Homo sapiens: one gene and its partners. The protein of the gene in region 5 purifies or fractionates together with the protein of the main gene of each other region. This does not show direct contact. Each region holds a gene or a part of one and is shown on either strand. Other genes may lie near its edges. The genes, in order: TAPT1, SLC30A5, DNAJC11, ATP9A, RIC3, RMND1 and SLC30A7.

Region 1 (3,500 bases), on a different chromosome or scaffold from region 5:
GTCACAGTATAAATGAGAATATGACTTCAAATATCCAGCTGTCTAGGAGGCATAAAGACTATTTGTCTTTTGGTTTAACCACTCAGCTTTGGGAATTGCTGATCTTACATGTACTCTACCGGAACCAGTGACACATACCCCCTCTGCCCTTCATGGACACCCTGTTAGGTGACTTAGTTATAAAGAAATATACCACCATTCACTAAAACAAATTTGGGTACACAAAGAATCTAGCTGTGTGTGTGGAGGAAGAGGCTTTTCCACCACAAGCCAGGTAGCCTGCTCGAGCTGCTGTGAGATGTCATTTAATCTTATGGTTTCTCTATGAAAAAAACTTCTGAAAATGTATCTCCAAGACCGTATCTCTCATTTTATATGTTTTTGATTTTTCACAGTTACTTGAAAATTACCAATGAATTAAAATAAATTAAGAAGTTAATAAATGCCTATAACATATATAATACTGGGAGTAATAAATGAAATCCAAAACATGGTTGCATCCTTTAAGAATGAGATTCCAACAAAAACGTCAGACATTCAAACAAAAACTCTAAATTACTTGAGATACCTGAGAAATTGATCATTTCCCACTTAGCTCACTTAGCATTATAATTACCCACTTCCCCTTAATTAGCCTGTTAAGTCCTACAAATGTCGTAGTATTTTTTACATTGCCACAGTGCCTGTCCTTGTGCCTAGAAACTAGCATATGCTCAGTGAATGTCTGCTAACTGAATGGATAATGAAAATTCATGGAGTCTTGACAATTTCCTGTCAGCCTGAATTCAGAGACGCACCTAAGTAGCAAAATTTCCACCTTACTTTATATTTAATTTATCCCTATTTAAAATGCTAATCAATGGGTAAAAGATAATGTTAGGGAAGAGCAAAGGTTCTCCTGGTTAACCCCTAAGATGAAAACAATCTTTCTGGATTTAGGTAACTAAAGTACACTACAGTTAAAAACCGAAAGGCTCAGAGCTGCCAGGCATAACAGGGCGCACTCACCTACTGAGTGTACAGCTCCAGAGACACTGAGGAGTTTATGGAAAATGACAGCATCCCACTACACCACAGAAAACATACCCAATCCATTCTACTGAAACAGGTACAGTCATGTGTCGCTCAGCAACAGGGATACATTCTGAGAAATGTGTTGCTAGCCAATTTTGTCACTGTGTTAACATCATAGAGGGTACTTACACAAACCTAGATGGTATAACCACACACCCAGACTATATGGTATAACCTATTGCTCCTAGGCTACAAAACCTGTACAGCACGTTACCATACTGAATACTGCAGGCAAACTGTGACACAATGGTAAGTGTATCTAAACATGTCTAAACACAGAAAAGGACACTAGGAGACCAGGTGACAGGAATTTTTCAGGTCCATTAGAATCTTATGGGACCACCATCGTATATGTGGTCTATTGTTGACTGAAGGTCATTAAGTGACAGATGATTGTTTCACCAATACCCAAACAGTAAAACAGCCAAAGTCTTTTGGAGTTTTCTGCAATATTCATTTTATTCCATGTAAAAGAATGATTTTGGCTTAGAAGTAAAATTATAAGACACTGTTTTGTTAAGAGTGAGTTACCTGGATTCCAAGAAAACTGTTCCATGTTTCTTAGACACACTATCAGTAAAAGCACATAATTTGTGAATCGTTCCTTAATATCTAAAAGAAAAAAAATCAACATAAGTACTGTAGTGTATATAAACAACATAATAAAGTACATATATAATTATTTTAGCCAGAACATGATGAAATTATTAGACGATGTATAAATGTCTATAAATATACAACTTTATATATATATATATGTGTGTGTGTGTGTGTGTGTGTGTATATATAGGCTGGTGCTACCATGGTAAGCCATTGACTTCTTTTGCCAACATAATTCTAGTATGGAAATTCCAGTTTTCTATAAACTTCAAAAAGTATTCAAACCATCAAACTGCTCAGATGAGGTCATTAGGTTCCTCCAATGGGCTTTGGGGACATATGACAACTGTTTCCATTTTACGGAAGAAAAAATAGAAGCAAAGAGTAAAATGAAAGACTTTGGGTAACAAAATCCTTGTATAAAATCCCAGACTATTTCCAATCTGGTAAATAGTACACAATTACTGAACTGATGAGTCCTTTAGCTGAGAGAATCCTGCTACTACAATAGCATTTCCGGGGGTGTATGTAGAACTTGAGGTAAAATAACCCCAAATTGGGCTTCATAATATTTACCATAAACTAATAACTGTGTGCTGAGATTAGGTGGAAGGAATTTAATAAAAGCAAATCACTGAATTCTTGCTAAAGGCCAGTGTACACATTTCACTTTTTAAGCTGTTAACTTTCTCATAGTCTAAGATACCGTGTAACCAAGAAATGGGACAAAATAAATTTGTCTGCAGTTAAGAGTGGCACACCCATGTATGTGTGCCGATGCAATAGTGGGGGCTGTGACTAGAAACAATCACTCATATAACAACCCATCTCAAAAGCTTTTTTACAGTCTGCTGTCATTTCCCTACTTTCCCACTGCCTCAGTAAATGCAAGCCTCACCCATATCATTCAGCCATGGCGCACCTCCTGTAAGCGCTCTGAATTTCAATTTCATCCTGATGTACTTCATGGGACTGTCTTTGCTTCTCTTTTTTTACTTCCACCTTTCCCCATTATTCTCTAGCAACATGATACAAACTTTTATTCCACAGCAAAACCTTATTCTCTGTAAGCGAGTTGGCCTTTATTCTCTGTACCTTCCCTACATCCTTAAGCTCTTCCAGTCAGTTGCTGGTACCTTCTTTTTCAGGGTAGCTCACCTCCTTATTAGTGATGGGTCTGAGCTGTGCCTTCACTCCCTCAAAGCCCAGTGGGCACTACTCACTTCCTATTTCCAAAGCTGAAGCACTATTTATTATGAGTGTGAGCTCAGGGCACAGTGAGTCTCAAGGTACCAAGCACTGAGATGCCTCTTTAGGAGGCAGGGCACCTCCGGAGCAAGGCCATGTGGATTTTCAGGTGCACCTGTTTTGATTTGTCTAGATCACATGTTTAATTTATTCTGTGACTTCAAAAGAGGATACAGGTTAAAGGAAACTAAGAAAAGTCTGCCCTAGAATAAGTTCCATCAAAGTCTGACACAAAATATATTCTTTGTTACTACAGCTAACTGTGGATCTTAATTCATGGGGTTAAATTTACCAATGTATCTTTAATTGGAATTCTGTAGAATTATTCACCAAGCTGTACCTATATGTGTGCTAAGTCCTTTCTAATTTCCATAAATGAATTTAACAATGAAATGTATTTATTTTTGATACTTCCCAAACATGTATAATATAGACTTGCTTCATTACAGAATTATCTGAAAATAAATGGCCTTGAGAAATTTAAAACACTATCTGAAATGAGCCAAAGTAACTTTTGTAAACTCTAACAAAGCAAAACTACCATCGAATTTAAATTAATTGTATTTGATTTTTGGACA
Region 2 (3,500 bases), on a different chromosome or scaffold from region 5:
CAGGTGTGAGCCACCGCGCCCTACTGTTAACATTTTGAGGCCAGGTGCAGTAGCTTGAGACCAGCCTCCGCAACGTGGCAAAAGCCTATCTCTACAAAAAATACAAAGAATTAGCCAGGCATTATGGTGCGTGGTAGCAGTCTCAGCCACTCGGGAGGCTAAGGTGGGAGGTTGAGGTTGCAGTGAGCTGTGTTCGTGTCACTGCACTCCAGCCTGGGCGACAGAGTGAGACCCTGTCTCAAAATACAAACAGGCTGGGCGCTCATGCCTGTAATCCCAGCACTTTGGGAGGCTGAAGTGGGTGGATCACCTGAAGTCTGGAACTCAAGACCAGCCTGGCCAACATGGCGAAAACTCACCTCTACTAAAATACAAAAATTAGCTGGGCGTGGTGGCGGGTGCCTGTAATTCCAGCCACCTGGGAGGCTGAGGCAAGAGAATCGCTTGAACCCGGGAGGCAGAGGTTGCAGTGAGTCGAAATTGCACCACTGCACTTCAGCCTAGGTAACAGAGCGAGACTCTGTCTCAAAACGAACCAACCAACCACAACATTTTGGTATACATACTTCTGGTTTCTTTTCAATGTATATGAATGATTATGTATAGATACAGTTTACTTTAACAAAAGATGCCCAATGAAAAATGAAAATTTTGTTGATCGAGTTGCTGGACTATTTTGTTATCTGCTTTCTAACTTAATAACTCCTCCAAACAAATAAGGAGAACAAAATAAAAACTAAATTCTGTTATGAAATGAAAAGACCACAATATAGGAAGAAACGGAAGAATGGTAAATGCCTTTGGTTTGCGCCTCCTTGGCCTTGTTAAGTGACTACAGTGAGAGTTGTGGTTGAAAGGTCAATTGACTGGACCTAGAGTCCTAAAAAGGCTCAGGAATTGGAAACACCTCAGGAGGGGAATGAGAAGCTGAAAAGACGAGGATCTCTAGGAAGTCTTCCAAGTAATCAGATCCCCAGGTTCCCACCCAGCAGGCAGGCAACTATCTCTCCTCAACCACTATAGGAGTCACGAGTCTTAGCCTCTGGCGAGGTCACTTAAATTTCCTGAAGTAGACAACTCTGCTGGCTTTATAAGAGAATGTCCATGTTTTTAGGAAAAACAAGGATTTAAGGATAAAGAAGCATGAATTATGTAACTTATTCTCAAATAGTCCAGGGGAAAAAAATACCTGTGTGTGTGCATTCAGAGAGAATAATAAATTACACAGGACGATACATTAACAATTACGGAGTCCAGGTAAAGAATATACTACTCTTGTGACTTTTAGGTAAACAGGAAATTATTTTTAAATGAGTAGTTTAAAAGTGTTATTTATTCAAGAGTGTATTGTCTCAGGTAGGGAAATGTGGTAAACAATCCTTTGCTATTTTATTTGTACTATTTACTTAGCAGAGTTACCCTTCTATTGTAGTTTATTGCAGAATCAATCAAATGCAACTCAGGACTGGTTGAATTTTGATGGATTCCAGGTTGCAAGAGTTTTACTTTATACAGACCAAAAATCAAATACTAGTTATAATCTGCAACAAAAACTAGTTGACAAGTCCTTTAATTGTGGGTATTTTTATGCCTAAATTCACAAATATGGATTATTTTAAACAAAGGTTTATTTTGGTTTAAGTCCTCTTTGCGGGGAAGGGCAGAGGGTCACAGTTAACATTTGTTGAGCACCTGCTATGTTCCAAGTGCTTTGAATATATCATTTCATTTAATTCTTACAACAGTCCTACAAACTAAGAAGTGGTATCCTTGTTTCACAAAACTGAGTCGTAGAAAAGTAATTTGCCCAAGGTCACACAACTAATAAATAAGCTGGTAGTCCGAGTTGTTTAAAACCCCATGTATAGTGCCTTCTACATAGTAGATACTTGAGTATTTATTAAATGAATTGAACTTGAATTACACACTGATTTTTATTTTTTAGCCAGAGAACTGTTGAGCTACTGCAGTAGGCAAAGCCCAAGAGGCAGGTTTGAACCTAAATCCAGATTTCAGTAATTCCATGTTTAGAGAACCAGGGAATTTTCTTTGATTGAACCCCCGGGTTCAAGCAATTCTCCTGCCTCAGCCTCCTGAGTAGCTGGGATTACAGGTGCCTGCCACCATGTCAGGCTAATTTTTGTATTTTTAGTAGATGGGTTTTTGCCATGCTGGTTGGCCAGGCTGGTCTCATACTTCTGACCTCAGGTGATCCACCCACCTTGGCCTCCCAAACAAAGTGCTAGGATTACAGGCATGAGCCACCGCGCCTGGCGAGAACCAGGGAATTTTCTAAACCTTCACAGAAAAGTCCAGTGATAACCTTTGACAAGACTAGTTAATGGGAAATAATGGTTTATAAATTGGGGGTGTGGGGGGATGGGCCAGGCATGGTGGCTCATGCCTGGGAAGCCTAGGCAGAATGATTACTTGAGTCCAGGAGTTCAAGACCAACCTGGGCAATACAGCGAGACCCCGTCTCTCCAAAAAGTTTTTAAAAATTAGCCTCCCTCTCCTCTCCTCTCCCGTCTCCACGTCCTGATAAATCGACGCCATTGTTTTTCCTTCATAACATGAACTAGGAATGTCTGCTTATCAATATAGGTTACTTAGCCTGGTTTTTCATCTTTAGCCCAACAGTTCATTAATTGGAACTTTAAAAATCAAAGAATCCAGGCCAGGCATGGTAGCTCATGCCTGTAATCCCAGCACTTTGGGAGGCTGAGGTGGGACGACTGCTTGAGCCCAGAAGTTCGAGATCAACCTGGGCAACATAGCAAGACCTCATCTCTACTAAAAATTAAAGAATGAACTGGGCATGATGGTGCACATCTGCAATCTCACATACTGGGACCTCATCTCTACTAAAAATTAAAGAATGAACTGGGCATGATGGTGCACATCTGCAATCTCACATACTGGGGAGGCTGAGGTGGAAGGATTGCTTAAGCCCAGGAGTTTGAGATTGCAGTGAGCCATGATTATTTTACTGCACTCCATCCTGGGCAACAGAGGAACTGAACTTGTCAGAAAGAAAAGAAAGGGAAGGGGAAGAAAGGAAGGAATGAAGGAAGGGAAGGAAAGAAAAAGAGAAGAAAGAGCAGGGCGCAGTGGCTCACGCCTGTAATCCCAACACTTTGGGAGGCCCAGGCGGGCGGATCACGAGGTCAGGAGATCGAGACCATCCTGGCTAACACGGTGAAACCCCGTCTCTACTAAAAATACAAAAAATTAGCCCGGCGCGGTGGTGGGCGTCTGTAGTCCCAGCTACTCGGGAGGCTGAGGCAGGAGAATGGTGCGAATCCGGGAGGCGGAGCTTGCAGTGAGCCGAGATCGCGCCACTGCACTCCAGCCTGGGCGACATAGCGAGACTCCGCCTCAAAAAAAAAAAAAAAAAAAAAAAAGAAAAAGAGAGGAAGGGAAGAAACAACTAAAATCTCTAAGGGTGTTTTTTGTGTTCTGTTTTTTTCTAGTACATATACATTTACTTTTTTTTTGTT
Region 3 (3,500 bases), on a different chromosome or scaffold from region 5:
TACAGCCATGGGAAGGTCTTCAGTCCCCCTGGAACCCTGATGGCAAACCACAGAGGGAAGGCACACAGTGAAGTCACTGTGCTATCTGATACCATTGGGACATGCAGCCCCATGTTTCCCCTGGTGTTGTGAAATGTGCCCATTAAAGCTTTTGCAAAGCATATTACCCTCGTGGTCACATGCAGACCAAATAACAAAGCGGAAGAAAAGTGAAGCTGTTGCGGCAGTTCTGCATCCATGTGTGCTTCTGAACAGAGGAATCGTCTGCACCTTTGGCCTTGGGCTCACAGTGCGTTCTTTAGGCTGCTGCCATTGGCACTTCCTGTTGTTTTGATTCATTCATTACCAGCAAATACCATTTTTAGGCACCCTTGACAGCGACAGACACAGCCATCCTCTCTGGAAGCCTCTCAACCCAGAATGGAAATGGAGGAGGTTCCATTAACTTTGCGCTCAGACGAGTAACTTCGGCAAAGGGATGGGGAGAGGTAAGAATGTCTATTGGCTGAGTTGTGTTGTCTGTGCAAAGCCTTATTTCTGAACATTTACACTCTCAAAGCTCACCCTCAAACTCACCCTGGGGGCCCCGTTGTTGTGTAAGAACGGTACCAAGTGTCAAGCTTCCATAAGTTGACTGGTCCTAAAAGAAAAATAGGTCTCATGAGCCTGGCCAACATGGTGAAACCCCGTCTCTACTAAAAATACAAAACTTAGCTGGGCATGGTGGCACCTGCCTGTAATCCCAGCTACTTGGGAGGCTGAGGCAGGAGAATCACGAGAATCACATGAACCCAGGAGGCAGAGGTTGCAGCGAGTCAAGATCGCGCCGTTGCACTCCAGTCTGGGGGACAAGAGCAAAATTCCGTCTCAAAAATAAATAAATAAATAGGTCTCATATCTGAGAAGTCCTGTCAGTCTTCCTCACAGTTTAAAATTGGCATAGAAAAACAAGGTTTCCTATGAGATGCCAACTTCTAGAAATCCAGCCTCTGAAACTCCGTGTGTTTGTTCCCTTTGAGCAAAAAGCCTGTGGGCTCTTTTTCCTGCACAATTCAGAAGGCAGGTGCTCTCTTCCGCGTGATGGTTCACTGATTGGTGGCCATTTAACAGCCAGTTCTGCCGAGCAAATTGAGCTGCATCAAATTAACATTGAAGAGTTGCTTGAAAGTCACCCAGACTAGTAAACACGGCAGCCAGGCTCAGCTGTGACTTCCAAGGCTGTGCGGGTGTGGAACCGCGGCTGGGCTTTAACATCAGGCTCCTGAGGACCGCCCCAGTGACCTGGGAGACATTTGGCGCAGGATGAAAATGAAAAGGAGTCGGCAGTGCATGCGGGGGTGGGGGGCACACCGGACCGCAGTCGGTGCTCTGCAGGTGGCGGGGGGCTGCGCCGGGAGGGGTAGGGGGAGCCAGCTGGTCTCCTGACCTCAGCCTGGGAGGCAAGGAACAGAGGGGAGCAGTTTTTTCTTTGGAGGGACACCAATGAAACATGTGCCTTTGAAGCCTGGGTCTCCTTTGGATCTGTGGCAGCAGACAGCTCCATTTGGCAAAGGTTAAGATGAGACATTAACAATCTTCCACCCCCTTCTTTTAGAGCCCTGGCAAGACCAGTGAATTGAATGAAGGAATTATACCTAGAGGTACATACCTGAGCCTGGGTTGCTGCTATGAGATAAAACACCATTAATGCCTTCTCTTTTTCCTTTTCAAACAGTTGGAATTTGGAGCTGGAGACCTACAGGGGCCTTTGTTCGGTCTCAAGCTGTTCCGTAATCTCACACCAAGATGGTAAATATGAGAGACAGCAGCTCCTCTTTGGTGGTCTTTGTTGGCTTAGGAGACTAGAACTGTGTGTTCTTTTTATCACAGTGGTTGGCACTATCTTGTCTGTCCTACAAGGTCACTGCGTACATCAAGGGCAGGTATAGCACTGGCGTGAAGCCCAGGCAGTGTGCAGGTGGGAAGAGGCAGGATTGAGGGGGCCGGACCCTTGTCCCAGCCCTGGCCAGGCTGCACCATCCAGGTCTCGCACCTCCCTTACCTATGCCACAAGGCCACGGAGAAAGAGTGCCTTCAGGGAGAGTTGGTCAGTGGACCGAAACACTTACAGACTTATGGATCGTTCCATTGTCCCAGAGAATGACAGACTGCCTCATCATCGGGTTGATTGACATATGCCAGAGATGTAGTCCCCAGCCAGCCTCTGCTTCCTGTCGTCTCTGCTGCTGCCATGTCACACTCCTAGAACTGTATATCCCTGTCCCTTCTAGAACGACAGCAGTGTCTTCATTTCCTATATGGTGGGTGCAGTGATGTCTGTGTGAGCTCAGATAAAAGAATTGGTGGAGGGTAAATAATACCTCTTTCTTCCAGAGGAAGATATAGCTGAAGGAGTCCTAGAATGGAGCACATGGAGTTTATTTTATTTATTTATTTATTTTGGAGACAGGGTCTTGCTCTGTCTTGCCCAGCCTGGAGTGCGGTGGTGTGATCTCGGCTCACTGCAGCCTCTGCCTCCTGGGTTCAAGCTATTCTCCTGTCTCAACCTTCCGAGTAGCTGGGACTACAGGCGTGTGCCACCACACCCAGCTATTTTTGTATTTTTAATAGAGATGGGGTTTCACCATGTTGGTCAGGCTGGTCTCGAACTCCTGACCTCAGGTGATCCACCTGCCTCGGCCTCCCAAAGTGGTGAGATTACAGGCGTGAGCCACCACGCCTGGCCTATTTTATTTTACTTTATTTTTGTTAGAGACGAGGTTTTGTTCTGTTGCCTAGGCTAGAGTGCAATAGTCCGATCATAGTCCACTGCAGCCTTGAACTCCTGGGGTCAAGCAGTCCTCCTCCCTCAGCCTCCCGAAAAACTAGGACTACAGGCGTGTGCCAACATGCCTGGCTCATTGTTTAGTTTTTTTTAGGGATAAGTTATCTCTATGTTGCCTAGGCTGGTCTCAAGCTCCTGGATTCAAGCAGTCCTCCCACCTTGGCCTCCCAAAGCACTGAGATTAGAAGCATGAGCCACTTCAGCAAGCCTGGAGTATATGTTTTTTGTTTTGAGACAGGTCTCACTTTGTCACCCCGGCTGGAGAATAGTGATGCAATCTTGGCTCACTGCACCCTCAACCTCCCAGGCTCAGGTGACCCTCCTGAGTAGCTGGGACTACAGGTGTGCACCACCATGCCTGACTAATTTTTGTAGAGTTGGGGTTTCTCCTTGTTGGCCAGGCTGGTCTCTTAACTCCTGACCTCAGGTGATCCTCCCACCTTGGCCTCCCAAAGTGCTGGCATTACAGGTGTGAGCCACTGTGCCCAGGCACAGTGGCATGAATAACTTTCTTATCAAACATGTATTGTAGGCTGTACAAACATGTACAAACATGTACAGGAGTTCGAGACCAGCCTGGCCAACATGGCGAAACCCCCTCTACTAAAAATATAAAAATTAACCAGGCATGGTGGCGCTTGCCTGTAGTCCCAGCTACTTGGGAGGCTGAGGTGGG
Region 4 (3,500 bases), on a different chromosome or scaffold from region 5:
AGCAGCAAGGCAGGGCTGCACGGGCAAGGTTCTGGGGCTCGGCACCTCCCAGCACTGCCACTTTGCTATCACAAGTCCCCTTTTATCAGTTTCATAGATTGGACTTCAGATTAAGATTTCATGGGAACAAAAAGATTTTGTGGCCCAAAAAAGGTGACAGAGCAAGACTCCGACTCAAAAAGAAAAACAAAAACACTGTCTACTGCAATCACGCCCTCTGTCCTCAATTTCACACCCTGAGGCACAACTACCACCTGTCCCTAGAGAACACCTGTTAAGAAAACGTGGACAGCTGAGCGGGAAGGACTGCTGGAGGAAGAGCCCAGGCCGAGCGCTGGGAACCCCCCTTCCTTCATACGGCAGTGAGACCTCTGGGCCAGATTCACTGGGGGTGACGGACGGGGTTTAAGCATTCAGGGGTCTTACCGATGAACTCGTGTAAGAACACCAGGGAGGCGATGTAGCAGGCCAGGCTGAGCAGCTCCGCCACTGTCATGAGCCAGTGCCAGGTCTGGATGGTCAGCGCCACCATGAGCAGCTCGGTGAGGATCAGCGAGGTGAAGGAGATGGCCACGATGTGCACGAACTCCGACTCAAACAGCAGCAGCGCCCCGTACATGATGGTGCTCCCTGCAAACACCAGAGAAGGGTATTCCCCTCACCCTCCCTGCGAAAGCCGTGCGCTGCTCGCCTACACCTGGCTCCTTTCCGCAGTTTTCATTTAGACATGAAAGGCATCACTTGTTACATGAGGTTAATGACTGGTGCTTTATGCAGGTCTGAACCTATGGTTTTCTGATTTTCCTCTTTGACCTTGTAGGATAAATAATCTTTAACTACAAAGTGAGAAAAAGGGAGAAAAAAGGAAGTAAGGCAGGGAGGGGAGTATCTAGAGTTGATGAAAGAAATAGAAAGTTAAATATAATATTTAAAATGATGGAGTCGCGGCCAGGCGCGGGGGCTCAGGCCTGAAAACCCACAATTTGGGAGGCCAAGGTGGGTGGATTGCTTGAGCTCAGGAGTCTGAGACCAGCTTGGGCAACAAGGTGAAAGCCCGTCTCTACAAAAAATACAAAAATTAGCCAGGCATGGTGGCATGCACCTGTAGTCCCAGCTACTCAGGAGGCTGAGGTGGGAGGATCACTTGAGCCTGGGAGATGGAGGTTACAGTGAGCTGAGATTGTACCACTGCACTCCAGCCTGGGTGACAGAGTGAGCCCCTGTCTCAAAAAAATAAAAAATAAAATGATGTCGTGACTCACACCTGTAATCAGCACTTTGGGAGGCTGAGGCGGGCGGATCACTGGAGGCCAGGAGTTCAAGACCAGACTAGCCACCATGGCGAAACCCTGTCTCTACTAGAAATACAAAAATTAGCTGGACGTGGAAGCGCATGCCTGTAGTCCCAGCTACTCGGGAGGCTGAGGCACGAGAATTTCTTAAACCTGGGAGGTGGAAGTTGCAGTAAGCCGAGATCGTGCCACTGCACTCCAGCCTGGGTGATACAGCAAGACTCTGTTACAAAAAAAAAAAAAAGAATAAACCCCAATAGGAGACATGAACAGTAAATTTATTTTTTAAAAAAATAATAAACCCCAGCCAGTCGCGGTGGCTTACGCCTGTAATCCCAACACTTTGGGAGGCCAAGGTGGGCGGATCACAAGGTCAGGAGTTCGAGACCAGCCTGGCCAACATGGTGAAACCCCCGCCTCTACTAAAAATACTAAAATTAGGTGGGCGCCTGTAATCCCAGTTATTCGGGAGGCTGAGGCCGGAGAATCGCTTGAAACCATAAGGCGGAGGTTGCAGTGAGCCAAAATGGCGCCACTGCACTCCAGCCTGGACAAAAGAGCAAAACTCCATCTCAGAATAGTAATAATAATAATCCCCAAATACACATGTTTATTTGTAAGTTATATATGTGTACCTGTCCAGATATATAGAAATATTAGGATCATTTCACATGTATATTATATGTACTACAAAACATACATAAAAATGGAAATACTAAAAAAGAGTGAGGATTCCGGGCACAGTGGCTCATGCCTGTAATCCCAACACTTTGTGAGGCTGAGGCAAGAGAATTGCTTGAGTCCAGGAGTTTGAGATCAGCCTGCACAACATGGTGAGACCTCATCTCTACAAAAAATACAAAAATTAGCCGGGTGTGGTGGTGTACACCTGTAGTCTAAGATGCTGAACTAGAAACAGGTTTCTAGACAGGAATTAAAGCCTGTGTCAGCACCCGACAGGATCCACAGCACAGCATGAGGTCATCTTGCTGGACCTGCAGGGACTCGTGGCTCACAGTCCATTGGGAAGAAATGAACTGATTTGGAAACTGATTTGGTGGTGGTGTACACCTGTGGTCCCAGACTCAGAAGGCTGAGGTAGGGGGATCACCTGAGCCTGGGGAGGTCGAGGCTACGGCGAGCCGTGATTGCTCCACTGAACTCCAGCCTGGGCAACAGAGTGAGACCCTCCGCCACCCAGGGTCTCACTCTGTTTCTACATATTATATAAAATATATTTTATAAGTATATAAAATCTATTATGTGCACTACAAAACATACATAAAAATAGAAATACTAAAAAAGGATTCTGGGCATGGTGGCTTTGCCCTGTGTCTCAAAAATATATAAATAAATAAATATATATATGTAAATTTAAAAGAGTTAGGAAAAATAAATACAAACAGAAGTTTTGCTATTTTCTTCTTATATTCCAACAGGTCATCTTACAACGCCTCCACAGTCTGGGAAGACCCCCCTCTGGAGGCCACTGAGGTAAACATGTTTTTCCAAAACTACGACTTGACCTGACTCTCAGAAAAGGTTTCAGAACATCCCAGAAAGCATCTGCTTTTTGCCTCATGAGTGGAGCAGCCCCACAGGCTTTGATTACTGTCCACTGCCTTCCTCTGGCTTCACTACCTCATTTCTCACACAGCAGCACTGTGCATGTCTGATGTTCAAGTCCTTATACAGGGTGAGCAGGGTCTCCCCTGGGTCCCACTGCCACCCTCCTTCCTGCTATTTCAGATTCGTTTCTTCTCTTCTTGTTCTACAGGCAAGAAGGGGACACCCTGAGTCAGTACCAGAGCACAAGACAAACAGGTGTCTCCACTCATCCTTACCTTGATAGATGCTAATCAAAACCCATATTAAGAATGTCTTGTAGGACAACGGCCGTCCCTGAATGAGAGACAGAGAAAGGTTAGAGCCGGTTTCGCGGGGGGCTCACGCAGCATGCCATCAGCTTTCACGTTATTCTCCCGCTAACGAGATAAGGCAACCCATCTGTCTTCATCAATAAAGTGGCTCGCACACATCTGAACACATTGGAGGAATTATTTCTTTAAAAAAAGAATTGGCCAGGCATGGTGGCTCACACCTGTAATCCCAGCACTTTGGAAGGCTGAGGCAAGTGGATCACTTGAGGTCAGGAGTTTGAGACCAGCCTGGCCAACATGGTGAAACCTCCTCTTTACTAAAAATACA
Region 5 (3,500 bases):
CGGCCACAGAGCCTCCTTTCTAAGTAGGAAAAGAGACAATAAACAAGATAATGATAAATACTAAGGAGAAAAAATAAGACAGGGAGAAGGGGTAGGACCGTGTTGGAAGTTAAGATTTTAGCTGGAATGGCCAGAGAAGGCATCAGGAAATGCAGTTTGAGAGAAAACATGAAGACGAAGGGAAAGGCACATGGATATCCAAAAGAAGAGCATTTCAAACAAGGGAAACAGCAAATGCAAAGGCACTGAAGTGGGAACATGCTTGGCATATTCAAGGAACAGTGAGGAGGAAGCCAGTGTGGCCACAACAAAGTGAGACAGATAGAAAAGTAGAAGCAAATGGGGAAGAGAATTACATAGGGCCTTTTGGGTCATGTATAGACTATCTTTTCATCTAAGCCAGGAAGCCACTGTAGAGTTTTGAGGAGGGGAGAGATGTGAGTTGACTTAAGCTTCAACATAATACTATCTGGCAGCTATATTGAGAATAGACTGAAGTGGGGAAGGAGGAAGGAGGCAAACCAGGGTGACAGAGTAAGATGGAATAGAGCAACCAAATAACCAACTGGTTGAATGACCCTAAACAAAACGTTTCCATGAATACAGTGGTGGGACTCTAAAAGCAGTTTTAAATGACTAAGACATTTAAAAAAATAATTTGACCTATCAAGAAAACATGCTGAGGCTGGGCATGGTGGCTCATGTCTGTAACTCCAGCACTCTGGGAGGCCAAGGCAGGCAGATCATCTGAGGTCAAGGGTTCGATACCAGCCTGGCCAACATGGTGAAACTCCGTCTCTACTAAAAATACAAAAAAAATTAGCCAGGCGTGGTGGTGGATGCCTGTAATCCCAGCTTCTCAGGAGGATGAGGCAGGACAATTGCTTGAACTTGGGAGGCAGAGGTTGCAGTGAACTCAGATCCTGCCACTACACTCCAGCCTGAGAAAAAACAAACAAAAAGAGAAAACATGCTGATCATAATCAAAGGTAAAATTGTAAAAAAAGAAAGAAAAAAAGAAAAATTATAACATGGTGGGAAAAATTTGAACACCAACTAGATATTTAATGACATCAAGGAAGTATTGACTTTTTAGGTGTGACAATGGTATTGTGGCTACATTTTAATAAGAATCTGTTTTTAGAGATGCATACTGAAGCATTTAAGGATGAAAAATGATCCAATGTCTAGGATTTGCTTCAAAATAATCCAGTGAATGGGGGGAAAAGTGGGTGGGGATACCCATGACACAAGACTGACCATGTATTGATGGCTGCTGAAGCAGGATGATATGGATTCATTTTACTACTCTCTCAACTTTTGCTTATGTTTGAAAATGTCTTTAACAAAAAGTTTTTTAAAAATCAAGAATGGCACACAGCTAAGAAATGGTAAGCAGATACATTGAATGAAACATTGAATGCTCTGAAAAAATTTCAAGAGCTAGAATTCTTGGCCAAATTTAAACAAATAAAATGCAACAAGGAAAACTACAAATTCCTACATTTCATTCCGAAACATCAAGTGAACAGTAGAAAATGAACAAAACCTAGATGAGCAGCTCCTATTAAAAAGAAGAAAAAAAGGCTCAGAATTCTAATATACAGCAAAGTCAGCAAGGAAAATGCTAAAAACTAGAGCAATCCCCAGAAAGCATTAAGTATAGAAGAAGAAGAGTGCAGGGAAACAACAGATTGCTCTTTCATGAACTGTCTTAGATATGCTGTTATTTGCAGTTCTAAGAGCCTCTTCTGAGAGGGCTGTGTTCAAACACTTGCACCTAGGTCATACCAGGAACGGATGAGGGAGCTAGGGATGTTAACACAGGAAAGAAGACTGAAGAAAGGGACATAATACTACTTTTCCAATTCCTGGATTAATCATCTTACACCTGTAAACCAAAAAGTATCTGGGACAGGCCTCAATCAATTTAGAAGTTTATTTTGCCAACGTTAAGGACACGCCCAGGAGAGAGGTCTGTGCCTTTCTCCAAAGATGATTTTGAGGGCTTCAATATTTCAAGGGGAAAAGTGAGCTGGAGGGGAAAGAAGGGTATGGTAATCTATATGTTGCAAGAGAAAAGGAGCAGGTAGAGGAATAGTCAATTATGTATTCATCTGGTGCTCAGTAAATCGGCACTTCACGTAAGATACGGTGAACATAGAGTAGCTACCTGTAGAGATATTTAATTTTTTATCTGTAGCTACCTGCTTAGGAACAAAAGGAAAGGCAGTTTCTTGCACGACTCAGCTTTCAGCTTAATTTTTTCCTTTTGGCATAGTGAACTGGGGTCCCAAGTTTTTATTTTCTTTTCACACACCTTTAATCTACTTTTCCTCCATTCCTATTTTGGCAAAGGAAATCAACATCTATCCCTTCACCTAAACCTGAGAATAATCCAGATGTCTCCCTCTCCCTCACTTTCCCATTCTATTTTAAAATGTCTCTTAAAATTATTCTCTTCCCTCCAATCTATCCATTGATAACCTCTCTTGCTCTAATATCCATATTTTCCTTTGGGAACTCCTCTCAACTCCAGAGTGGATTCATCAGTATATTCTTTCTACCCACAGCACCACAAGTTAACTTAATTCAAGCCATTAACGTGAACGGATATGTTTGCTGGAACTTCTGGGAAAGAATCTTGGGAGTGAGGCTGGAAGGTGAGAGTGATGGAGGACTTAAAAGAAAAGAGGCCTGGAGCTGTGCCCAGCAAAGTGCTGTAATCCCAGCACGTTAGGAGGCTGAGGTGGGACAATGACTTGAGGCCAGGAGTTCCAGGCCAGCTCTACACACACACGTATATAAATGAGACACTCCCACTTTCTCCGGGCAATGGAATGTGAGGAGGTAATGTCCGAAACTGTTGCTATAAATGAGACACTCACTTTCTCCGGGCAATGGAATGTGAGGAGGTAATGTCCGAAACTGTTGCTATAAATGAGACACTCACTTTCTCCGGGCAATGGAATGTGAGGAGGTAATGTCCGAAACTGTTGCTATAAATGAGACACTCACTTTCTCCGGGCAATGGAATGTGAGGAGGTAATGTCCGAAACTGTTGCAACCATTGCTACCACCCTGAGAGGGCAGCCAGAGCACAGAACCAACTTGAGAACGAACCCAGAGTGAAAAGGACACAGAAAATAAGAGCTAGAGCCCCAGTGTGACAACTGTGAGTCTCTGGTTCAAACCATACTGCAAGACATTTCTAACACAGGGTCTTTTCATTTACACAAGTCAATAAATTCCCTGTCTTAGTCAAGCTGACTTTTCTGTCACTTGTCACAAGCACCCTAACTGGTGAACCCAATGACAATGACTTGGTGATGCTCATGATGTCTCAACTGGATGACTACAACAATCTTCTCCCTGAAGAAATCCTCACAACGCAGTGTCTACACTGCTGCCAGGGTGTCCTTTCTAAAACCAGGTTAAATGTTTCTCTTCTCCTTACACACTCAATGATGCCTCATCTGCCTTTAGAATAAAACCCAATC
Region 6 (3,500 bases), on a different chromosome or scaffold from region 5:
TGGCGTGATCATGGCTCACTGCAGCCTCAAACTCCTGGGCTAAAGCAATCCTCCTGCCTCAACCTCCCAGGGTAGCTGAGACTACAGGCACATGCCATTATACCTGGCTAATTTTTTTAAAAAAAAGGTTAGTAGAAATGAGGTCTCATTGTGTTTCCCAGGCTAATCACTTATTTTTGATGTGATACAAGGTGAATGTGGGGATTGGTAGGAAATATGATTGAAAAACAGAAACAATAGGAAGGACCTTGTATATCAAGCCAGAACACTTGAGGCAATGAGGGAAACTGGAGGTATTAAAATTAGTTGGAGGGAATCAGAAAAGACAATCAGTAGACACTAATATCAAGAGGTATCTGAGGTTAGGTATTATTAGATGATGTTAGAGCAACCATCATAAAAATGATTCAACAAGCAATTCTGAACACATTTGAAACAAACGAAAAAGCAGGAAGTCTCTGCAAAGAAACAGAAGATACAAATAAAAAAACATGGAAATTTTAGAACTGAAAAATATAATAAATGAAATAAACTCAATGTTGGGCAGCAGAACGAATGTAACAGAGGAAGGAATCAATCAACTAGAAGATGAAACAAAGGACATTACCCAATCTTAACAGAGACAAAATATACTGGAAAAGAAGTGAACAGAGCCTCAAAGACCTTGTGAAATGATAATAAAAGATAAAATGTAGATGTCATAGAATTATGGCAGATTTCCGTCAGAAACCATGGAGGTCAGAAGGAAGTGGCATGGCATTTTTCAGGTGCTGAAAGAAAGAAAACTGTCTACCTAGAATCCTATTTCTAGGAAAATATCCTGCAAGAATGAAGAGAAAATTAATACACTCTCAGATGAAGACAAACTAAGAGAATTTGTCTCACTAGACTTACCTTAAAAGAATGGCTAAATAAAGTTCTTGAAAAAAAAAAACAGTAAAAGAAATCTTAGAAGATCAGAAGGAGAAAAGAACAGAAAGAATAAAAACATGGGCACATACAACAGACTTTGCTTTTCTTAGTTTTCTAAATTATGTTTGATGGTTGAAGCAAAAATTATAACATTATCTGATGAAGTTTTCTATGTCTGCAGAAGAATAGTTAAGAAAATTATAAATACGGAAGGGTAAAGGAATATAAAAGAAATAAGAATTCTTTTTTTTTTTCTGCATCCAATCATCCATTAGGGAAATAAAGATTCTATACTTCATTTAATCTGCAAGATGTTGAAATCAGTAGATTGTAATAAGTTATATACGTAAGATGTAATAACCAGAGCAACTACTAAATATCTATGCAACGAGATATATTAAAAAGTAACATCAAAATGAAATACCAAAAAATTGTTTCAGTAACCACAGGAAGACAGGAACTTTGATACAAGCAACAATTTGGATGGATCCAAGTTGAGGGCATTATGCTCTGTGAAAAAAGCCAGTTAAAAAGTCACATACAGATCGAGACCATCCTGGCTAAACACAGTGAAACCCCATCTCTACTAAAAATACAAAAAAAAATTAGCTGGGCTTGGTGGCGGGTGCCTGTAGTCCCACCTACTCAGGAGGCTGAGGCAGGAGAATGGCGTGAACCCGGGAGGCAGAGCTTGCAATGAGCCAAGATTGAGCCACTGCACTCCAGCCTGGGCAACAGAGCAAGACTCCGTCTCAAAAAAAAAAAAAAAAAAAAAGTCACATACTGTATGACTATCTATATAACATCCTCAAAATGACAAAATTATGGAGATGGAGAAGAGATTACTCACTGCCAGGGGTTAGGGACAGTCCGGGTAGGGGGAGGGCAGTGTGACTATACAGGGTAGCATGAGGAAAAGTGATAAAACAGTTTTGTGTCTTTTTGTTTTGTTTTTTTTGAGATGGAGTCTCGCTGCAACGCCCAGGCTGGAGTGCAATGGCATGACCTCAGCTCACTGCAACCTCCACTTCCTGGGTTCAAGCGATTCTGCTGCCTCAGCCTCCCGAGTAGCTGGGACTACAGGCACGCGCCACCACACCCAGCTAATTTTTGTATTTTTAGTAGAGACAGCGTTTTACCATATTGGCCAGGCAGGTCTCGAACTCTTGACCTCAAGTGATCTGCCCACCTCTAGCCTCACAAAGTGCTGGGGTTACAGGCATGAGCCACCGCACCTGGCACAGTTTTGTGTCTTGATCATGTGGTTGCATGGATCTATAGATGTGGCAAAATGTCACAGAACTATGTGCACACATTGTACTAATGTCAATTTTCTGTTTTCTATGCTCTTTCCCCATGTGGTCTACCTCCATCACTACAGCTTTTTTTTTTTTTTTTTTTTTGAGACGGAGTCTCACTCTGTCATCCAGGCTGGAGTGCACTGGCTCGACCTTGGCTCACTGCAACCTCCACCTCCTGGGTTCAAGTGATTCTCCTGCCTCAGCCTCTCGAGTAGCTCGGACTATAGGAGAATGCCACCATGCCTGGCTAATTTTTGTATTTTTAGTAGAGACAGGGTTTCGCCATGTTGGCCAGGCTGGTCTCAAACTCCCAACCTCAGGTGATCCATCCGCCTCAGCCTCCCAAAGTGCTGGGATTTCTTAATACACGTCTCTTTTCCCGACTTTGCTTCTGCCCTTCTAAATGCCTGCATGACGGAGCTAATTGGATATCTTGTTGCTACTCTAATCTCAGCATATCTTAGATTTAGTCTGTCACCTCCCCTCTCTGACCTCTCATTATTGTTTTTCCACCTTTCTACTTGTCACCTCCAGGCAAACATCAGTCATCCTTTATTCTTTCTTCTCCATGGCCTCTTATTACCCATCACTTGATTTGTCTTACATGATTCTTTCTTAAATTTATTTCTATTCTCACTGTCACCATGACAGATCAGAAGCAGTCATGAACTCTTGCTTGAAACTTGACAAGAACTTACTGATGGACCATTAGGCTTCCAAACTCTCATCTTATTCACCAACCTTATCTAGTCTGTAGAGCTAATATCAGAAGATCCTTTGACACAAAAAATTGAAGTGACTGTACAGAGGACAAGAAGGGGAAATATAAAGAGATTTGAATGGAAGTCAAACAAGATATTTCTCTGCAAGCAGTTAAACATATTCAACTTATAGGCGACAACGTGTCTTTTTCTCTCATTAGAAGTGCAAAATACGTACCTTAACTCTTCGGCCAATGCTAAGGAATTGACACGTTTTATCGTAAAGTCCTTCCAGGTTTTCTCTGTCCCAGTAGAAATCAGGAGTAATCAGGAAGTCTGAACTCAAGTTTATACGGTGCCTTTAAAAAGGAAAATTATAACTTTTTATTTATCTTGAATTAAAAATCATTGTTTCTATTGTATTTAATATTTACATAGTGCTTTATGAAAACTTTTTTTTTTTTGGTAAGAGAGAGGGTCTTGCTATGTTACCCGGGATGGAGTGCAGTGGTGTGATCACAACTCACTGCAAACTGAACTCCTGGGCTCAAGCTGTTCTCCTGCCTCAGCCTCCCATGTAGCTGGA
Region 7 (3,084 bases), on a different chromosome or scaffold from region 5:
AAAACTGCTATTTCTAACTCTTCATGAAAGCATTACCTTTGGAAAGTTAAACTTTTTTTTTCCTTTCATCACCGTCTTTGAAACAAATTATTTTCCAATTCATAAGAACTTTGGTAAAAAAAAAAATAAAAGGAAATTATATGTTTTTCTTTGGACATTCATTGGAAGGCTTGTTGAAGACATGATCCCCCAGAAGCCTTAGTGACCCAGATCTCAACCAGAGACTCAAGATAGCCTCAAATACAGTGAAAGATTATGTATCCAAAAAAAAAAAAAAAAAAAAAAGAAAAGGAGCAGGGAAGGACAGTTCTAGTTAAAGCCAAATGGATGTGAGTCTGACAAGGGTGTCTTTGATTTATATTTCCTAACTGCAAATTACACAGAAAGTGAGAATGGGGAATAACTTTTATTAAGTATTTATGTGCCAGGCGGTTAGTGTGGCCTTCATGTTATTACATTTAATCCTCAAATTTCTACAAAGGAATAATTTTGCATGATTTTATGATTGACGGAGCATTTTCAAATCTCCTCTAATTCTCATAACATCTCTGTGAGGAAGGAATTTTTATCCTTATTTTACAGATGAGGAAGCTGTTTGGAGATAATTTAAGTGACTTGCCTGGGGAATCTAGCCAGTAGTAGAGTACTGATTAATCAGGTGCTGACATCTGCTCTGCTTTGTGTATGTAATTCAGCAGTGCTTCAAAGATCCAAGAAGCTGTAGCAGATCTCAATACACTCTCCTATAAAATTAGTGAATAATCACCATGACAAAATTGGTATGGCGGAACAGTCATTATACATTATTTAGACTCATTCCTTCTTCCAGTGCCCTTATGATTATTTCCTACCTTTACCATTGATCTTAAACTGTGCAGGCTAAAAAGAGGAACCAGAACTCCCTTAAGCACTTTTAAGACTATTTAAAAAATAAAGTTTTGTTGGCATTGAAGAGTAAGCTGCTTAAGGGACTGAATGAAAAGATAGTACCCTTTGTGGCTGTATGAAGAGAGAAACTGAATTTCTATCCAAGAGACCTTAATTTAGTTTATTAGGGAATTATCTTCCCCAAAAGTACAAGTAATTTTGCACTGCAGGAGAAGGATAAGTAGATTTGATTTACATCACATTTTATACACACCTTTCAAAAGGAAGAAATCTGTTTCATAAATAGTAGTAATCTATGCTTAAACTTAACATTTAATGTTGACTTCTTACAACAGCCTTGAAAATTATTTGTAATTTTGATCATGATGTTGGAAAGCTTGTAATAAAGAATATCTTTCTCTTCTGCATCCTTTTATCCTCAAACTTAGCATGGATTCACATGCTGAGTAAATGTTTGGTTAACTAGTGAACATTTTAGATAGTTGTGTCAAAAATAAGGGTTAGGGATAGGTAAAACCAGTAATTTACTGTTTTTTACAGAAGACATCTCAGCATTTCTTTGGCATTTTTGCACAAATAAATGACTATATATTCACCTTGGCCATTTTTTTTTTTAAGTAGCCCTATGAGCTGCTCATTCTTTTTCATATACAGTGGAAGTATACAGATGTTATCCATTTTACAAATTGTTGGATCGGAATTTGACAGAATTGGGACTGTGGAACCTGGGTCACTTGAATTTTCTATATTTTGTATGGCCAAATCAGGAACCAGACAGTCTCCATAGTCTCCTTTGTTTTTATGGAAAATTGCCATATTCACATATTTCATTTATCCTAATGTATTGTCATCCAAAATGAAAGAGGTCTTTCTTGAAGGTGCTTTAAAGACATCACTACATGTATTCAATTACTGATTTAAATATTCCCAGAATTATTTTTTACCTTTCTCTTTTTCCTCTCAAACACAAAATTTTAGTAGTACCTCCCTCTATTTCTTCACTGATTTTTCATCTGTTTTCATTGTTATTTCCACTATAGAACTTCTACTTTATACTAGCGGGGAAAATTTTTTTATTTAGAATTTTAATATTTGAATTTTGTTTATGTATCACATACTGTGCTACAGTTAGCCTCAATGAAGATTCTATTTTGAACTAGACATCCTGTCAATAGTTTGTCAAGTAACTTCATTGCTTCCTTTGATAGCAATTCAGTGAAATTTTTTCCCAAGTGATATTTTCCCCCAACTTTTGTGAGTTTGATAAATAGGATGAGTCTTTTATATTGGAAATACTGTGAATGGAAAATTGCCAAATCCCTTCTTAGTATATTTTAAGCACCCTACAACACTTTACCTCCCTGCCTTTAGTGGTATTTAAACATATGGCCAAGTTAGTATTTGGGTTTGATTCCTTTGGTGAAGATTAAGGCATCAAAACATTTCTTAAAATGTTTGAGTACAAGGCTAAGTTATAATGTCAACTTTCAAAGACTATGTTGTGATTCGGTTTGAATATGCTGAAGTGAGCAATTATGATTTGCCCAAGTGCAATACAACAAATCTATAATGTATATTTCACATTTTCTACTTGAACACATTCATGTATATATTTTGTTAAACTTCATATGTATTTAAAAAGAATCATGAACTGTATCAAAATTCTTTCAATAAAATTTCTATTTAAAAATCTCTACCTGAATTGTGTCTTATCAGTTTGACGAACTGAAACAAACACTGTGAATCTTACAGGTATTGGAATAGATACTAGAGGACTTAAGGAATGAAAGGCAAAGAATGATTCTCAGAGCCAAGAAACAGCAGAACTTACTAGGAGAGAAGAGATGCTAGGAGGTTGGAAGTATCTTTACATTGTGAACAGCCTCATTGTGGCTCTTAGTCAGCATCTGACCTCATAAACATGTCTCGAAGTATTTACTTCCAGATATTTCCATCACTCCCAAGTTGTTCTCTCATCTCAGTTTCTATGGATGACTTTGTCTTATATGACGTGAAGACCAAAACATCTGATGTGAGCCTCCATTATCCTTCCAAATTTTTCCCTCTGATTAGATGCAATTCTTTTTTAAAATAACTTCTTCCACAGTATCCCATGCACCACTCATGTCACCTTCCTTCTCAAAGGTATTCTTACCAAAGCAGCTTCTTTACTATCATCAATCTCTGCCATACTTC

Evidence for each region.
Region 1: the proteins of RIC3 (region 5) and TAPT1 purify together in Homo sapiens (affinity purification with mass spectrometry; 3 studies listed by BioGRID and IntAct, with this or other methods). This does not show direct contact.
Region 2: the proteins of RIC3 (region 5) and SLC30A5 purify together in Homo sapiens (affinity purification with mass spectrometry; 3 studies listed by BioGRID and IntAct, with this or other methods). This does not show direct contact.
Region 3: the proteins of RIC3 (region 5) and DNAJC11 purify together in Homo sapiens (affinity purification with mass spectrometry; 4 studies listed by BioGRID and IntAct, with this or other methods). This does not show direct contact.
Region 4: the proteins of RIC3 (region 5) and ATP9A purify together in Homo sapiens (affinity purification with mass spectrometry; 4 studies listed by BioGRID and IntAct, with this or other methods). This does not show direct contact.
Region 6: the proteins of RIC3 (region 5) and RMND1 purify together in Homo sapiens (affinity purification with mass spectrometry; 4 studies listed by BioGRID and IntAct, with this or other methods). This does not show direct contact.
Region 7: the proteins of RIC3 (region 5) and SLC30A7 purify together in Homo sapiens (affinity purification with mass spectrometry; 2 studies listed by BioGRID and IntAct, with this or other methods). This does not show direct contact.

The regions. Positions count from the first base shown.
Region 1 is NC_000004.12:16,177,972-16,181,471, forward strand, and holds part of TAPT1 (transmembrane anterior posterior transformation protein 1 homolog), read right to left. Parts: intron 1,687-3,500; coding exon 1,606-1,686; intron 1,599-1,605; exon of another isoform or gene 1,009-1,598; intron 1-1,008. UniProt on the Homo sapiens protein: Plays a role in primary cilia formation. May act as a downstream effector of HOXC8 possibly by transducing or transmitting extracellular information required for axial skeletal patterning during development. May be involved in cartilage and bone development.
Region 2 is NC_000005.10:69,097,014-69,100,513, reverse strand, and holds part of SLC30A5 (proton-coupled zinc antiporter SLC30A5), read right to left. Parts: intron 1-3,500. UniProt on the Homo sapiens protein: Together with SLC30A6 forms a functional proton-coupled zinc ion antiporter mediating zinc entry into the lumen of organelles along the secretory pathway.
Region 3 is NC_000001.11:6,649,817-6,653,316, reverse strand, and holds part of DNAJC11 (dnaJ homolog subfamily C member 11), read left to right. Parts: intron 1-365; coding exon 366-488; intron 489-1,714; coding exon 1,715-1,788; intron 1,789-3,500.
Region 4 is NC_000020.11:51,604,391-51,607,890, forward strand, and holds part of ATP9A (probable phospholipid-transporting ATPase IIA), read right to left. Parts: intron 3,195-3,500; coding exon 3,137-3,194; intron 631-3,136; coding exon 427-630; intron 1-426. UniProt on the Homo sapiens protein: Plays a role in regulating membrane trafficking of cargo proteins, namely endosome to plasma membrane recycling, probably acting through RAB5 and RAB11 activation. Also involved in endosome to trans-Golgi network retrograde transport.
Region 5 is NC_000011.10:8,159,026-8,162,525, forward strand, and holds part of RIC3 (protein RIC-3 isoform a precursor), read right to left. Parts: intron 1-3,500. UniProt on the Homo sapiens protein: Molecular chaperone which facilitates proper subunit assembly and surface trafficking of alpha-7 (CHRNA7) and alpha-8 (CHRNA8) nicotinic acetylcholine receptors.
Region 6 is NC_000006.12:151,414,127-151,417,626, forward strand, and holds part of RMND1 (required for meiotic nuclear division protein 1 homolog), read right to left. Parts: intron 3,274-3,500; coding exon 3,153-3,273; intron 3,146-3,152; exon of another isoform or gene 2,955-3,145; intron 1,423-2,954; exon of another isoform or gene 1,292-1,422; intron 1-1,291. UniProt on the Homo sapiens protein: Required for mitochondrial translation, possibly by coordinating the assembly or maintenance of the mitochondrial ribosome.
Region 7 is NC_000001.11:100,979,174-100,982,257, forward strand, and holds the end of SLC30A7 (zinc transporter 7), read left to right. Parts: 3' UTR 1-2,584; downstream 2,585-3,084. UniProt on the Homo sapiens protein: Zinc ion transporter mediating zinc entry from the cytosol into the lumen of organelles along the secretory pathway.